Homo sapiens: one gene and its partners. The protein of the gene in region 2 interacts with the protein of the main gene of each other region in a pairwise test. Each region holds a gene or a part of one and is shown on either strand. Other genes may lie near its edges. The genes, in order: PAK1, GIT1 and ARHGEF6.

The links.
Region 1: the proteins of GIT1 (region 2) and PAK1 interact in binary tests that used the Homo sapiens proteins (3 or more experiments, as listed by UniProt).
Region 3: the proteins of GIT1 (region 2) and ARHGEF6 interact in binary tests that used the Homo sapiens proteins (3 or more experiments, as listed by UniProt).

Annotation. Positions count from the first base shown.
Region 1 is NC_000011.10:77,472,031-77,475,630, reverse strand, and holds the start of PAK1 (serine/threonine-protein kinase PAK 1), read left to right. Parts: upstream 1-1,536; 5' UTR 1,537-2,079; exon of another isoform or gene 2,080-2,222; intron 2,223-3,600. UniProt on the Homo sapiens protein: Protein kinase involved in intracellular signaling pathways downstream of integrins and receptor-type kinases that plays an important role in cytoskeleton dynamics, in cell adhesion, migration, proliferation, apoptosis, mitosis, and in vesicle-mediated transport processes.
Region 2 is NC_000017.11:29,583,049-29,586,870, reverse strand, and holds part of GIT1 (ARF GTPase-activating protein GIT1), read left to right. Parts: intron 1-3,254; coding exon 3,255-3,388; intron 3,389-3,822. UniProt on the Homo sapiens protein: GTPase-activating protein for ADP ribosylation factor family members, including ARF1.
Region 3 is NC_000023.11:136,774,121-136,777,942, reverse strand, and holds part of ARHGEF6 (rho guanine nucleotide exchange factor 6), read left to right. Parts: intron 1-3,822. UniProt on the Homo sapiens protein: Acts as a RAC1 guanine nucleotide exchange factor (GEF).

The DNA of each region.
Region 1 (3,600 bases), on a different chromosome or scaffold from region 2:
TTGGCCAGTCAGCTAAGTAGGGAAGAGCTTGAAGACATGAAGAAATGTGTATTCAAATAACGTTAATATTTCAGTGTGCTTGGAGCAAAAAATAAATGATGTGAGACAAAGCTAGAAAGGCTAGTGTAAGCAGTCAGGTAATAAAGTGCCAAGTTCAGGAGTTTGAACTTTATCCTGAAAGCAATAAAATCCTTTCGGTGTTTAAACGGGAGGACATCATCAGATTTGTGCTTTTATAAGGCTACTCAGGTAACTAGTGAGAAAAATAGATTGAGTTTGAAGAGACTAAAGGTTGCTCCAGTTGTTCAGGTGGTGGTAGTAGAAGACGACACAGGCAAGGACTTGAAAAATATTTAGGAGAAGCTACAAGACTTGGTGTCCAACTTGATATGGATGTTGAGAGAGGAAGAACGGGGAGCTATTAGTATGTCTAGGTTCCTGGCTTAGGGGATTGTTGAATGGGTGGCCCATTCATTGAGAACGGAAAGGAACGTAAGAAGCAATTTTGGGGGGGAAATAATAATAATAGCCAACATTCTAAAGGGCTTGTTACTATTACCATGGTAAAACTGAGGCTTAGGAAGACCTAGTTAAGGTACTACTTATTATTACAGAAAAATTACGGCTTAGAAATGTCAAGGTCCTATCACTAATATTTGAATAGCTAGGATTTCAAGCAAGGCAACCTGATTCCGGACTCTTAGCCTTTCTAATGCTGTCTCAGTTTCGCACATGTTGAATCTGAGGTACGAAGAGTATGCAGGTAATGCTGCTCGGGAGGTATTGGGAAATACACAATCTGAGCTCAGGAGAAAGAAAGCTTTGGGTCGAAAGTACCCTCCACGGTAGGGGAAAAAACGTGAAAGGAAGCCCATTCTTTTCGTATGTCAGTTCACATTAGTTCAAACATCTCCGTTATAATTTCTTTGTCTTCCTCCCACCCCTGCCCCCTCTCCCACAGAAAGAAAACATAATACATGTCTGGCTGTGAGATCACACGACATCGGATAGTTTTCAAATTCAGCCCTTGACAACGAGCTCATAGATGCGGTGGTGCTTTGTTAACCTGAAAAGGACCCTCAGCGCCGGAAGTTAGCCGTCTTTCTCCATCCTGACTACTACAGTAGCCCTCCCAGAAATCGTCCCAAAATTGTCTGATAGAAAGGCTGCACGGAAACAACCCGCCACGGACAGCGGACCGAGAACAGTGACGCGACGCGATGACGTCACGCAGCAAGCGGGTGATTCCCCAGCCTCTGGCGTCACGCGCCGATGACGTAATCCCAGGCGTTCGCCCTCATGCGGGCCAGGGTTTGGCCTCGCTCCCACGGGTCGGTCAGGCCCTCCCCGCCCCCTCTCACCTGCGGGAGGCGGGGCGGGCACGGCTCCACCGGAGCCGCAGCCGCCGCCGCCGCGCCGGGGAGGGGGAGTGGGGGAGGGGGAGGGGGAGAAGGGGAAAGGGCAGAGGGGAGGAGGAGGCGGGAGGAGGAGGAGTAGGGGAGCCAGTGAACTAGGCGGTCAGGCCTGCCGGGCGGCGTACAATAGCGCGGCTGTGGGCGGGGGAGGCTGCCCTCCCGCGGCTGCAGCCGGAGCCGAAGGTGGTGGCTGCACAGTAGACGCCCCCTCACGGCTTCCCCCACACGCTCCCGCCCCCTCGCTCGCCCATCGCGCTTCCCTCACAGGCTCTGCAGTCCTCCCCCACAGACGCCTTCCCCCTTGGACTCTCATTCCCTTTTCCACGGAGCCCCGCGCTTTCGTGAGCCCCCTCGAGGAACCTGGTCTCCGCATCCAGTTACCACCTCCTGCCTCAGAGGCCATCTGAGCCCTTCGCACCTCGCCCCTCAGTCCCCCCTTCCCCCCCCGCCCGCGTCGCCTCGCTCCCTCCCGCCCCCCCATCATCCCTTCCCTCGCAGTTCCCCTGTCCTGAGGGGAGCCCCGCCACGGGCAGCGCGGCGGCGGCGGCAGGAGGGAGAAAGTGAAGCGGTAGCTCGCGCACACTCGCGCCCTCACTCCCGGCTAGGCGGCACCCACCGCCGGGAGGAGGAGGAGGAGCCGAGAGGAGCTGAGCGAGCGCGGAAGGTGAGAGCGGGCCTACCGCCCAGTACCCCTCGCGTCCCGGGCTGCCAGGGCTGGGGCGCGGGGGTGGGGACGGGTGGAGTGGGGGTCTGGGCCCATTTATTTCGCGTTGCGGGGCCGGGCGCCTGGGCGGGAGGAGGCGCCAGGTAAGGTGAGGCGGGCGGCGCCCCGCGAGGCCCGCTCCCGTCGGGCCAACAAAGGCCCCCTGTGCGCGTACCGGCGGGGTCGCGGGTCTCAGACGCCGGGCGATTCGAGAGACCTGGGAGAGGGAAGGGGCGGGGCGGGGCCAGGCCAGGCTGGAGCCGGGAGGCCACACGAGTACCGGTCCGGGACCGAGTCCGTCCCGAACTTCGCAGTCCTGCGGCGCTCACCCTGTCCCGCTACGAGGAGGCACAGCAAAGCGGCGCCCAGTTCCTTCTGCATGGAATAAATGACCCCTTCCAGGCTTGGACAGTCACCTTTAGGGTTCTACTCCCTGAAAAATAAGGGCTGGTAGGACTTGACTTACGCAGCCCCTCCCCCACCCCGGAATATTCTGTAACTTGGGAAGTGAAAAACAACCGGGGAAGGAGATTTATAGTTATTTTATGTTCATTATTACGTTTGAAAAGACATGATTGTTGTAGCCTTCGCTATCCTATTTCAGCAGTACACATTACTGGGAGTGTTTTGGAAGAATACTTGAGAAGTAGTGGGTGTGGCGTTGTGAGCAACGTCCTTGGTTTTTAAACCCCTTGGATAATTGTTCTACTGTTACAAAAACTGTGAACAGTGAAGGGAAGGGTTAGTTCCGTGGTTACTAATAAAAATTCAGATTCATTAGTCTTGACTTTAAGAATTGTTCCTGAGAACAATCTTTAATTTTGCCTCCTACATTTTTGGGTTCTCTTTCAACTCTGTCAGGAGAAAGTAGGAATTATCAGTACAGATACCTCATCTCTCTTACCCTGTGGCTTCATCTACTTCTTGTGTGACCTTGAGCAGGTCACTTCCAGCCTTAAAAGCTCCAGAAGTTTGGTTTTATGCCCCAAAACGGGCAAGTAGCAAGCACCGGACTCAGCTTTCAAGAGTCCACTGAAGAATTCCCACACTGTGAAGTCTTTGCTGGCCTCCATCCTGTCTCTCCTCTTACAGACAGAGCTGATTTCTTCCCATTGGCCCGGTGGGATTTCTACCACAGCACTTACAACATTTTGGTTCCTATTTGGAAAATTCTAAGTCAGGTGCATATAAAAACTCCCCACCTCAACTAGAAACTATGCCTTTCAAAAAGGGTTTTGGGAACATTGACCCTGAAAACTTCCCATACTTTCCCTGAAGCTTATCCATACTCTTTAACTACATGAGCTCATGGGTCTACCTTGGTAAATTTGCTTATTCAGTCAATTCGTTTATCCAACATTACTGGAGTTCGGAGAGCTACTATGTTTCAGGCCTCTTGCTAAGGCTATGGGGATTCAGTCTATTAAGATATTCCCTGTCTTCAAAGAGCTCAAAGTCTAATGGGTGAGGTAGACAAGTAAA
Region 2 (3,822 bases):
TGTGTTCCTGCCTGCCTGGGGAGTCCAAGAGAGGAAGGGGGCAGGGAGCCCTGGAGAATGTGCATCTTCCCCTTTCCTTAGGCTTGGCCCACCTCGCCACACGATCTCAGTCAAGGGCCTCTCCTCACCCCATGGGCTTCTATCTCAGCCTTTTCCACTTTGGCAACCCTGGGGGTGAGAGTGAAGGCCTCAAGATGCCTGTCCTGTAGGTATCTCTGGTGAGCAAGGCCGGGGACATGTTACGGGACAAGCTACAGGCTGATTTGTCTCTTCATAGTGTAGATTGCAGAGTGGGACAAATGTTGGGCTCCTCTTCCTCCCTTATGGAGGTAGAATTTGTGTGTGTCAATGCCTGCACCTGAGTGTTCATCCTGATGGGCTTTTACATGTGTGTATACCCATGTAACTACTGCTCTGATCATGTTATAGAATAAGGGTATCCAATCTTTTTGCTTCCCTGGGCCACATTGGAAGAAGAATTTTCTTGGGCCACACCTAAAATACGCTAACACTAATGATAGCTGGTGAGCTAAATAAAACAAGCAAAAATAAAAATAAAAAATAAAGTCACAAAAAAGTCTCATAATGTTTTAAGAAAGTTTATGAATTTGTGTTGGGCCACATTCAAAGCTGCCTGGGCCGCATATGGACTGCAGGTTAGACAAGCATGTTATAGAACATTTCCATCACCTTAGGGGGCTTCCAAGTACCCCCTCCCAGTCCGTGCACCCCAGAGGTAACCACCATTCTGACTCTACCCCAAGGACTACTCTCGCCTGCCTTCATGATGTGGGCTTTTCCCTTAGTCTAGTGGAGATCTGGCCCTTAGCTCAGGGGAGGGAGGCCTGAGGCTAGCCTGTATGTGCAAACCTACTGGCCCTGGAGGCCACTGATGGCTTCAGGTGGTGGCAGGAATTCACCGTAGTAGAGGCCTCCATGGGGTTGGCACTGGTTAACGTGATCCCAGGATCACGCCTGCTACCTCTCCACACATACAGACCCATACCCTGCCGGTGGAGCCAGAAGCGCAGGGGGAGGGCTGACGAGTTCCCTTACAGTTCCTGTCCTTTCCGTCCCAGGTTTGGTCCAAGGAGCTTCTTGACGCAAGGATCCCTTCACCTTAAACTACAATCTGGGTAGTCCCAAGGGCACTTGCACAGAGGGAGGAGACAGAATGGTTAGGGTGGGCGTCCCATCTGTGTCATCCAGAAATGAGCTGACACCAATAGCGGCTGCCCAGACCAGGACAGTGTCCTTTGCCTACCATTCTTCTCAGGTCACCTGGAGGAGAAGGAGAACCCCTCCCCCAGGCTGGGGGAAAGTGCCAGGCAAACCCTTGGACCACACTCCTGCATCCTGGTCTTGGTTACTGCCATAGCCAGGGTCACTCACCACATCTGGTCTGCCCATGGCTTAGGGCTCTGGAGCCATTGGCCGTGGATATATAGTCAGCCTTCCATGCCTGGCTTCTCCGGTAGGACCACAGACCTCAGATCAGCCCATTTATGATCCTGCCCTGGGCGGCTCCCCACTTACAGGAAACCCCACCAAGAGGAATTTGGGCTGCATCATTTCCGGCTTCCTGCCTGGGCTGCTGGAGGTGGCTGGCTGGCAGCCCCCTGACCCAGTGGTGTTTGGAGTGGGGAGAGGGAGGTCTCCACACCTGGGGTGCCTCACTATTTGGGTAAAGCCAGCCCAGAAGTGCATGCTAGGGCTCCCCCTCTTGGCGAAGAAGGCTGGTCCCTTCCTCCTGAGCCCTGGAGTCAGCCCCCCAGGAAGGTGTTGGCGGTCACCTTGGGCATCCCTCTGTTGCCCTGATTGGGAGGGGGTCCCTTAAAAAGCCTAAACCCGCTGCACTCCAGCCTGGGCGACAGAGCGGGACTCCGTCTCAAAAAAAAAAAAAAAAAAAAAGCCTAAACCCAAAGACAGGCCTCTCTCCTTTACTTCCTGTTTTCATGCCTCAGTGGGGGTCACTTGCTGTGGGCAGAGCTCAGGCTGGGCCCCTGACTCAGAGTCTCCTCAATTTTCCTGGGAACTTTGGTGGAAGTCCTTAGAGGGGAAAGGCCTGAGAATTGCCTTCTAGTTGGGAGAGATTCTTATCCCCCTAAGCCTGTCCCTCCCCTGATGGGGATACTTCTGAACACCCTGAGCGCTACAGGGCAAGGCAGAGAGCCAGTCCCCCACCCCCACCCCAGGACAGGGTTTCCTGAGACAGGGTGGGGGCCGCTGGGCAGAGCAAAGTGTCCTGGGAGAGAGGCGCCCTGCCCCCACTCTCAGGCGGCACACAATGGCTGCTTTCTCCCCCGTGACCTTTCCGCAGCCTGAGTCGTATGCAGCTGTCTCCCAAGGGGCCTAGGATGGGTGGCATCTCCTCCACCCTTGAGAAGAACCCCGGAACTCCCACCCAGTCCTGGCCCTGCTTCTTCTCCCAAGTTCACTTTTCCCAAAAGAGTGGAGAGCAGGCTATAGAGGCAGAGGGACAGCAGCAAGTGTGGACATGGCATGGTCTCAGGCATGAAAGTGCCACATCCTGGCAATTCTACTCATTAGCCTCGCATCCTTGAATAAGCCCTTTAACCTCTCTGAGCCACTGTTTCTTCATCACAGAGGTAGCATGTCCTACCTTGCCTGACAGTTGCAAGCAGCATCACACATAATGTACCCAGCTGGTACCTAGTGGGTGCCCAGTCAAGCCCAGCTCCTTTGCTCTGTCCATCTTCCTTAAGAGGGCTCCAGCTTACACCCTCAGTGATGATGGCAGGAGGCTCCAGCATGAAAGGACCTCACCTGCTGGCAGGAGGCCAGAGGCAGGACCTGTGGACGGGTGTGATCTGTCAGGCATGTTTCAACAGCATCTGGCATGCAGCAGCATCTGGGTTGCATCCCCTTGGGGATCCCTTCCTCCCTTCGGGACGGGCTGGGGCAGAGACCTCGTTTCCTGGGAAAAGGCTGAGAGACTGGTAGCAGTGGCTGCAGGGCAGGAAACTGTGCCTGCTGAATGGGCCCTGGGGACTGCATATCCCAGAGGGGTAAGGATGTAGGAAAGGGCATGGCTCTGTCAGCCCCCAGCTGTGAGCTCTTGGGGAGATCCCTCACTGGTAACCTGGCCGTAGTGATGGTCCCAGCTCCTAGGCTGTTGGAGACTGAGTGAGTGAATGTGTGGAGAGTACTAGGCTTGGCACGGGCCAGAGCAGGTGCTCAGGAGGTCTGGCCCATCATCTGGCTCCGGCTGACCCTTGCCCTCACCCTGGCAGACCCTGGCTGGGCATCCATCAGCAGGGGTGTGCTGGTGTGTGACGAGTGCTGCAGCGTGCACCGGAGCCTGGGACGCCACATCTCCATTGTCAAGCACCTTCGCCACAGCGCCTGGCCTCCCACGCTGCTGCAGGTACAGGGCTCAGTCGGGTGGTTCTTCCTTCCCCTCAGGCAGAGTGTGCTGAGCATGAGGGCGTTTCCCCCTCACCCACATACACCCCCATCTGGAATCTGCAGCTTCCAAGGGGCAGCACCCCCCTAGGGCAGAGGCTAATCCTGACCCTTTCCTCCCATCTACTCACTTCATGCAGAAGAGTAGCTCACACCCCTGCTCTGCCACTTATCAACGTGGTCGTGTAGCATTGAGCAAGTTGCTTCACCTCTCTGAGCCTTGGCACACTCATGGGATCTGTGTCTTTGGGCAGCTGGACTAGATGGAGGTGTGGTGGTGCGGGCACACAGTAGGCCCCCTTGGTACCGTTTCCAGCTACGCCAGCCACAGCAGGCGCTCAGGAAGTGTTTCCCCCATTGCTTAGCACGCAGTGGGCACTCTCTCACTTGGCATCT
Region 3 (3,822 bases), on a different chromosome or scaffold from region 2:
TCCTCATAGCTTAGCTCCCCCTTATAAGTGAGAACATATGATGTTTGGTTTTCCATTCCTGAGTTACTTCCCTTAGAATAATGGTCTCCACCTCCACCCAGGTTGTCGTGAATGCCATTATTTTGTTCCTTCTTATGGCTGAGTAGTATTCCATGGTGTGTGTGTGTGTGTGTGTGTGTGTATGTATACATATTATATATATGTATATTACATTTTCTTTATCCACTCTTTGGCTGATGGGCATTTAGGCTGGGTCCATAACTTTGCAATTGCAAATTGTGCTACTATAAATATGTGTGTGCAAGTGTCCTTTTCATATAGTGACTTCTTTTCCTCTGGGTAGATACTCAGTAGTAGGATTACTGGATCAAATGGTAGTTCTACTTTTACTTCTTTAAGGAATCTCCATACTTAAGGTTTTCCATAGTGGTTGTACTAGTTTACATTCCCACCAGCAGTGTAGAAGTGTTTCCTTTTCACCACATTCATGCCAACATCTAATATTTTTTGTTTTTTTTTTAATTGTGGCCATTTCTGCAGGAGTGAGGTGATATCTCATTGTGGTTTGATTTGCATTTCCAGTGCTTAGTGATGTTGAGCATTTTTTCATATGTTTCTTGGCCATTTGTATATGTTCTTTGAGAATTGTCTATTCATGTCCTTAGCCCACTTTTTGATGGGATTATTTGTTTTTTGTTTTTGTTTTGTTTTGTTTTTTGAGACTGAGTCTCACTCTGTTGCCCAAGCTGGAATGCAGTGGTGTGATCTTGGCTCACTGCAACCTCTACCTCCCTGGTTCCAGCGATTCTCCTGCCTCAGCCTCCTGAGTAGCTGGGAATACAGGCGCCCGCCACCATGCCTGGCTAATTTTTGTGTTGTTAGTAGAGACAGGGTTTCACTATGTTGGCCAGGCTGGTCTCAAACTCCTGACCTCAGGTGATCCGCCCGCCTGGGTCTCCCAAAGTGCTGGGATTACAGGCGTGAGCCACCGCACCCGGCCTATTTGTTTATTTTTATTTCTACTTTATTTATTTATTTATTTATTTATTTATTTATTTATTTATCTATTTATTTATTTTTGCTGATTTGTTTGAGTTCCTTGTCGATTCTGGATATTAGACCTTTGTCAGATGCATAGTTTGGGAATATTTTCTCCCACATTGTGAGTTGTCTGTTTACTCTGCTGATTATTTATTTTGCTGTGCAGAAATTTTTTAGTTTAATTAGGTCCCATCTATTTATCTTTGTTTTTGTTGCCTTTGTTTTTGAGTTCTTGGTCATGAACTCTTTGCCAAAGCCAATACCTAGAAGAGTTTTTCCAATGTTGTCTTCTAGAATTTTTATGATTTCAGGTCTTAGATTTAAGTCCTTGGTCCATCTTGAGTTGATTTTTGTAGAGAGGTGAGAGATGAGAGATGCGGTGAGAGATGAGGATCCAGGTTCATTCTCCTACATGTGGCTTGCCAAATATCCCAGCACCATTTGTTGAATAGGGTGTCCTTTCCCCAGTTTATGTTTTTGTTTGCTTTGTCAAAGACCAGTTGGCTGTAAGTATTGGGCTTTATTTCTGGGTTCTCTATTCTGTGTCATTGGTTTATGTGCCTATTTTTATACCACTACCATGCTATTTTGGTAACTACAGGCTTGTAGTATAGTTTGAAGTCGGGTAATGTGATGCCTCTAGATTTGTTCTTTTTGTTTAATCTTGCTTTGGCTATGTGTGTTCTTTTTGGGTTTCATATGAATTTTAGGATTGTTTTTTCTAGTTCTGTCAAGAATTATTATGGTATTTTGATGGGAATTGCGTTGAATTTGTAGATTGTTTTTAGCAGTATGGTCTTTTTCACAATATTGATTCTACCCATCCATGAGCATGGGATGTGTTTCCATTTGTTTGTGTCATCTATGATTTCTTTCAGCAGTGTTTTGTAGTTTTCCTTGTAGAGATCTTTCACCTCCTGGGTTAGGTATATGCCTAAGTATATTATTTTTTTTGCAGCTGTTGTAAAAGGGGTTGAGTTCTTGATTTGATTCTCAGCTTGGTTGCTGTTGGTGTATAGTAGTGTTACTGACATATTGATTTTGTATCCTGAACTTTACTGAATTCATTTTTCAGATCTAGGAGCTTTTTGGATGAGTCTTTAGGGTTTTCTAGGTATACAATCATATCATCAGCAAACAGTGAGAGTTTGACTTCCTCTTTACCGATTTGGATGCCCCTTATTTCTTTCTTTTGTCTGATTGCTCTGGCTAGGACTTCCAGGACTATGTTGAACAGAAATGGTGAAAGGGGGCATCCTTGTCCAGTTCCAGTTCTCAGGAAGAATGTTTTCATCTTTTCCCTGTTCAATATAATGTTGGCTGTGGGTTTGTCATAGATGGCTTTTATTACCTTAAGGTATGTCCCTTCCATGCTGATTTTGTGGAGGGTTTTAATCATAAAGGGATGCTGGATTTTGTCAAATGCTTTTTCTGCATCTATTGAGATGATCATGTGATTTTTGTTTTTAATTCTGTTTATGTGGTGTATCACATTTATTGACTTGCATGTGTTAAACCAAACCTGCATCCCTGGTATGAAACCCATTTGATCATGGTGTATTATCTTTTTGATATGGTATTGGATTCAGTTACCTAGTATTTTGTTGAGAATTTTTGCATCTATGTTCATCAGGGGTACTGGTCTGTAGTTTTCTTTTTTTGTCATGTCTGTTTCTGGTTTTGGTTTGAGGGTAATACTGGCTTCATAGAATGATTTAGGGAGGATTATCTCTCTCTGTCTTTTGGGATAGTTTTAGAAGGATTGGTACCAATTTTTCTTTGAATGTCTGATAGAATCATGTGACATTTCAAGGAATTCATATATGTAAAGGCCCCAGAAGAGTGCCCGGAATGTAGTAAGTATTCTCTGCATGGTAGATATTATTATTAGCAATGCTGGTAGCTTTGCCCCAGATAAACTTTGCTTCCTTCACCATTTTTCCTAAAGTTAGCCCTAGGACCAGGTTATATCTGTTTCAGAATATTTTATTCCATTTTCCCCTATTGCCTAATTTGCACTCTCTCTCTCAATCTCTGTTTCTTTCTCTCTCTCTATTTATGTGTGGGTCTGTGTGTGTGACTTTTGAGGTAGGTGTGATGGGTGACCACTTTATATCCCTTGTAGAATAATGTCTACTATGGAATTTTCTTTTTTTTTTCTATTATGGTCCAGACTCTTCAGGAAATTTTAAATTTTTCTTTAATAAATACTATGATATTTTCTTTTTTATTCCTTTTTTTTTTTTTTTTTGAGACAGAGTTTTGCTCTGTCACCCAGTCTGGAGTGCAGTGGTGTCATCTCTGCTCACTGCAACCTCTGCCTCCTGGGCTCAAGCAATTCTCATGCCTCAGCCTCTCAAGTAGCTGGGATTACAGGCACGCGCCACCACGCCCGGCTAATTTTTGTATTTTTAGTAGAGACGGAGTTTCACCATGTTGGCCAGGCTGATCTCAAGCTCCTGACCTCAAGTGATCTGCCCACCTTGGCATCCCAAAATGCTGGGATTACAGGCATGAGCCACCACGCCTGGCCAATACTATGGTATTTTTTTTTTTCAAATAAAAACATGGTGAAGTTGCCAATGATTTCTGCATTCTAAAGCTGCCAGAAGGTTTACTTAGCTTCTTTGCAGTTCTAAGAATACTGGATGATACAGAAACACCTTCCAGGTTAGGCATTGTTCAGGATTTTTCTGATAACTAATGCTTACTCCTTTAAGCACCAATGCTTAAAATATTCTTCCACTTTGGATAGAAATATTTATTGTTTAAAAAAATTAT